Regions from separate parts of the Homo sapiens genome. Here region 2 is linked to region 1. The links come from fine-mapping of genetic effects on gene expression. A gene starts in region 1. The other region holds a variant in brackets. All regions are shown on one strand. Distances are from middle to middle.

Region 1 (2,756 bases):
GGGTCACTGCCTGCTGTGTGCGTGCATCTGTGTGGTCCTGACACTGCTTCAGTGCTAGAGCAGACGTGCTAATAGAGGCCTAAGTGGGCAATGTCTATGTGTTCCTAGGGCTTCCCAGCTGTGCTCAAGAGGGCAAGGTCACTGCCCCATGCCCACTGAGCCTCTGGCTCCCCGACTTTTTTCTCATCCTAGAATAGGAGAATGGGGCCAACCCCCTCCTGAAGGCAGATGGGGATCAGGGTTGGGGGCACTTACCAGGGACCCCTAAGCATTGAGTCAGAAGCAGCAGGAGTGGGAGCCACCCCATCCTTCTGGCTGGAGGCTGCACTGTGACCCACCACAGCCCCATCCGGGAAGTTGTGAAACCTGTCCCTACGGGATTGGGTGGCTCTGGCTCCACACGTCAGCTCAGGGCCTGCTGGACCCTGACCTGAGACCTGGTGACAGGAGCCATGAGGGGCCAGGCCTCAGGTCCCATAGGTCAGTTGCAAGGGCCTAGTACAGCTTAGTGGACAGGTGTTAGGAAGGTTTGGTGGGGACACTTGAGGTGCCCTGGGGTTGGGGTGAAACCCCTCTGCAGCCTAGTCAGCCCAAGGGCATTGTGAAAGTGAGAGCTGCCAGAGGTCTGGGCTCCAGCCCCTGGGTGACATTAAACTTTTCTGAATTTCGGTTTTTCCCTGTAAATTGGGGAAAATTACTTGCCCCAGCTTCAACACTGCCTCCCCTCCACCCTTTTGCTGCTGCCTTATCAGGCCCCAGCTGTAGGCAGGTCAGCCCACACCCGGCGGCAGAGCCCAGAGAGGCTCGCTCATCTCAGCCGCCAGAAGTGTCATCCCAGGGAAGGTGAGCGAGGCTGTCCACTAGGACTAAATAGGGGTGGAGGTAACAGGTAGCAGGGACTCTGGCAGGAACGGCCTTTCAGACGTTTTAAGGACCGTCTGAGCGGGGCCTCTAAGTATGGGTAGGAGACAGGCGGCCTAGGGATTCCGGTTAGCATGTCGCGTTCTGCCGCAGCAGGGCTGGGAGCATCCCCAGAGCAGGCGGAGGTCGGAGGTGGTGAGGCCTTTCGGCGAAGCTGAGGCCTGGAACAACCCGGTGGGAAGCCATGGAGGGGGTCCCCTAGCGGAGGCTGGGCGCGGGCCAGTGCGCGTGCGCGGCTGGAGGCTCAGCGCGCAAGCGTGCGCGTGATTTGGCCCTGAACGGACGCCGTAGCCAAGAGGTTGGGCGGATGTTGTGAGCCGGGTCGCTGCGGCCGAGGCTCCGGGTGAGTGAGGGGCGGCAGGGCTCTGAGCCTGGCGGGTTCCGGCTATTCCCTTCGCGGTCCGGGCTAGTCCAGTGCGAGGGCACCTGCAGCGCAGGGATCTGGGTGCGAAACTCCGAGCGGAAGCTGGTCTGGCAGGTCCTGTGGAGCTTGGGGCCAGGCGGGGGCGACTTGGGGGAGCCATGCGCCGCCCTCGCCGTCCTTGGGCTCCCAGACGGAGTAGGTTCAGTTCTGAGTCCGGATACCCCGGCGGGGTTGGACGGGATAGCCGTGACAGGGAGTCCCCGGGCGGGGACAAGGTCCGCCTCTCACCTGGGTCCTCAGCAACTGACTCCCGGAGCCCACTCCGGGTGTCTGGAAGGTCTGCTCATCAAATGAATGACTGAGTTTAATCAGATCTTCAACTACTCTGGTAGTGAAGGGGCACCGATCATGGACGCCCACCGAGGGCCCGAGGTCGGGAAAATCACCTTCCCGAGGAGCAGGCGTGGTGCAGACCCACAAGGGTTTGTGGCGGGAGTAGAGGGTCTGTTTGGGGTGAGATAAGAGACTGAACTGCAGAGTAGGGAGTGCTGGCTAAGGCAGTGCTGCAGAGCGAAACTCTAGACCTGCGCTGTCTAATAGAACTTTATATGATGGTGGGAACGTTCTACCTTTGTGCTGTCCAACAGAGTAACCATTAGCCACATGTGGTCATTGAACTCTTGAAATGTGGCTAAGGCAACTGAGAAATCGAATTGTTAATTTTTAAAACTTTAAATTTAAGTAACCTCATGTGGATGACGGCTGCTGTGTTGGACAGCACCGCTACACATCAGTGAGGCCAGCACCAGGGACTCAGTGCAGGTTCTGGAGCAGCTGCAGCAGCAACATGATGTGAGGGATAGATGCACTAGGAGGACCAATGGAGTTTGCCATGAGGGCTGGGCAAGGGTGGTGCTTGGATGAGGTGGGAGGCCACATGTGTGAGTGGGAATGGTGAAACTATCAGGACCATGGATAAAAGAAGGGAGGAACCCAGGGCTGAGGAAAGAGGCTCCAGCCTTGTGGGGAGTAAGTGGGACTTATGGCTAGAGATGACCAGACCAGTGGTGGTCTGCACTTGGGGGAATGTGTAGGATTGTCGCTTCTGGTTGTGAGCTGGACTCAGTATGGCTTACAACTGAGATGGATACAGGGGCTCTGCCCCTAGGACACCTCACTTTGGACATTTTGGTCTGATTTCCACAGAGCTGAGACATTTTGTTATGGTTCGGCAAAAATATATCTAGTACCTGCTCTCTGCCCAGCCCTGTGCTGGGCACAGGGACACTGGAGAACAAGAAGTGGTCCCTGTTACATGGGCCTAGACCCTGGCTACCCTCCCTGTGTAGGAAGCTGGGAGCCCCTGCATTCCCCTGCCCTATGTGTTAGTGTGCATGCCCCTGGCCTCACCTGCTCCCAAGCCTTCCTGCCATGGCAGGACTGAGGTCAGGTGTGGGGGCCCCTGGCTGGC
Region 2 (3,012 bases), 94 kb after region 1:
CAACCTCCACCTCCCAGGTTCAAGTGATTCTCCTGCCTCAGCCTCCTGAGTAGCTGGGATTACAGGTGCACGCCACCACACCTGGCTAATCTTTGTATTTTTAGTAGAGACGGTTTTTCACCATGTTGGTCAGGCTGGTATGGAACTCCTGACCTCGTGACCCGCCCACCTTGGCCTCCCACAGTGCTGGGATTACAGGCTTGAGCCACCGCGCCCGGCCTGGAGGGTCTACTATTATAACAACAGTCTGACACATTTGCACTTAAAAATGCCCATCACAAGCCAGGCACAGTGGCTCATGCCTGCACTTTAGGAACCCGAGGCAGGAGGATCATTTGCACCCACGAGTTTGAGACTAGCCTGAGCAACATAGTGAGACCCCCATCTCTACAAAAAAATTAAGACAAAGAAAATTAGCCAGGCATGGTGGCGCATGTGTGTAGTCCTAGCTACTTTGGAAGCTGAGGCAAGAAGATCACTTGAGCCCAGGAGTTGGAGGCTGCAGTGAGCTACAATTGTGTCACTACACTCCAGCCTAGGAGGTTTTTAAGAGACTGTCTCTTAAAAAAGGCCAGGCGTGGCCAGGTGTGGTGGCTCACACCTGTAATCCCAGCACTTTGGGAGGCCAAGGTGGGTGGATCACTTGAGGTCAGGAGTTTGAGACCAGCCTGGCCAACATGGCAAAACCCCGGCTCTACTAAAAAAAAAAAAAAAAAAAAAAATTAGCCAGGCGTGCTGGCGCACTCCTGTAGTCCCAGCTACTCGGGAGGCTGAGGCAGGAGTATCACTTGAACCCAGGAGGCGGAAGTTGCAGTGAGACAAGATCATGCCACTGCATTCCAGCCTGGGCGACAGAGTGAGACTCTGTCTCAAAAAAAAAAAAAGGCCAGGCATGGTGGCTCATGCCTGTAATCCTAGCATTTTGGGAGGCCAAGACAGGAGGATCACTTGAGACTAGGAGTTCAAGCCCAGTCTGGGCAACTGAGACCCCATCTCTACATAAGTAATTTTTAAAAATGCAAATGACAGCCAGTGTGGTGTCTCACCCCTGTAATCCCAGGCCAAGGCTGAGGCAGGTGGATCACCTGTCAGGAGTGACCAGCCTGGCCAACATGGTGAAACCCTGTCTCAGAAAAAAAAAAAAAGCAGGGGCTTGGGACAATTTTGAAAAGCTAATATTTTTGCTGGGTGCAGTAGCTCTCGCCTGTAATCCCAGCACTTTGGGAGGCCGAGGTAGACGGATCATGAGGTCAGGAGATCGAGACCATCCTGGCTAACACGGTGAAACCCCGTCTCTCCTAAAAATACAAAAAAATTGGCCGGGCATGGTGGCAGGTGCCTATAGTCCCAGCTATTTGGGAAGCTGAGGCAGGAGAATGGCGTGAACCCAGGAGGTGGAGCTTGCAGTAAGCCAAGACCATGCCACTGCACTCCAGCCAGCGCAACCGAGCGAGATTCCGTCTCAAAAAAAAAAAAAAAGAAAGAAAGAAAAGCTAATATTTTAATATCCCCCTCCTTTCAAGAACTGCCCAAGGAACTGGTCTTACCAAGATTATAATGAACTAAAGATTCAAAAAATGGCCCTGAAGGACAATGAAATAAATAACTAAAGACTACTCAACTTCTCCCTTGCCTCACAAGTGCAGTATAAACTCAGTCGAACAGCAACAAGCTGCCAGC[G/A]TCCTCTGGGTTCAGCACCTGCTTTCCTAAAGGATCTCCTGACCAAGGAGCTGGTTTCTTTCAAAATTATTATTTTATTTATTATTTATTTATTTATTTATTTTTGGAGACTGAGTCTCACTCTGTCACCCAGGCTGGAGTGCAGTGGCGCGATCTCAGCTCACTGCAACCTCCGCTTTCCGGGTTCAGGTGATTCTCCTGCCTCAGCCTCCATGCACCACCACGCCCAGCTAATTTTTGTATTTTTAGTAGACATGGGATTTTGCCATTTTGGATAGGCTAATCTCTTAACTACTGACCTCAGGTGATCCGCCCGCCTCAGCCTCCCAAAGTGCTGGGATTACAGACATGAGCTACCGCACCTGGCCTCTTTCAAAATTATACATTCAGAGGTGACAAGATCCTGATAGAAGTGCACAAAGTAGGCTAGGCGCGTGACCAGGCACAGTGGCTCACGCCTGTAATCCCAGCACTTTGGGAGGCCAAGGCAGGCGGATCAGGAGGTCAGGAGTTCGAGATCAGCCTGAACAACATGGTGAAACCAGGTCTCTACTAAAAATACAGAAATTAGCCGGGCATGGTGGCACGCACCTGTAATCCCAGCTACTTGGGAGGCTGGGGCAGGAGACTTGCTTGAACCCAGGAGGCAGAGGTTGCAGTCAGCTGAGATTGTGCCATTGCACTCCAGCCTGGGTGAGAGAACGAGACTTCGTCTCAGAAAAAAAAAAAAAAAGTAGGCTTGGCGCGGTGGCTCATGCCTGTAATCCCAACAATTTGGGAGGCGGAGGCGGGTTGATCATGAGGTCAGGAGTTCGAGACCAGTCTGGCCAACATAGTGAAACCCCGTCTCTACTAAAAATACAAAAATTAGCCAGGTGTGGTGGCACGTGCCTGTAGTCCCAGCTACTCGGGAGGCTGAGGCAGGAAAATTGCTTGAACCAGGGAGTCAGAGGTTGCAGTGAGCCGAGATGGCACCACTGTACTCCAGCCTGGCAACGGAGCAAGACTCCATCTCAAAAAAACAAAACAAAACAAAACAAAACAAAAAGTGCACAAAGTATTGTCGCTTGACTTCTTAGTCATCTCATGCAGGCATATTCTATGACCACATACAAGAAGACTGTACAAAGAACCAAAGAGGCCACAGGTCAAGAGAAATGTGTTTTGGAGCAATGAGAACTCTTCCTAGACCTGCACACTCTACTGAGGATCTCCAACTTGCCCAAATTCACAGGAAAGGGGCTTGAAGGTGTTTTCACTGAGCAAGATAATTTTAGTACTGTTAAAAGTTAATTTGCGCCGGGCATAGTGGCTCACACTTGTAACCCCAGC

What was found. PIP is the estimated chance that this variant, and not a neighbour inherited with it, causes the effect.
Region 2: its variant is fine-mapped to the expression of MST1 in whole blood (TOPMed, PIP above 0.99).

The regions. Positions count from the first base shown.
Region 1 is chr3:49,688,343-49,691,098 of GRCh38, forward strand. It overlaps MST1 (macrophage stimulating 1), which reads right to left and starts at 1,132. Exons shown (of 18, transcript NM_020998.4): 1 at 256-1,132. The coding sequence starts at 349. RNF123 (ring finger protein 123) reads left to right here and starts at 1,215. Exons shown (of 39, transcript NM_022064.5): 1 at 1,215-1,264. RefSeq lists an enhancer at 486-1,045.
Region 2 is chr3:49,782,249-49,785,260 of GRCh38, forward strand. The region is part of intron 1 of IP6K1 (inositol hexakisphosphate kinase 1); the gene reads right to left. Among named protein-coding and RNA genes, the nearest start is that of IP6K1, 2.8 kb to the right of the region's middle. The variant G/A (reference allele first, on the strand shown) is at 1,681.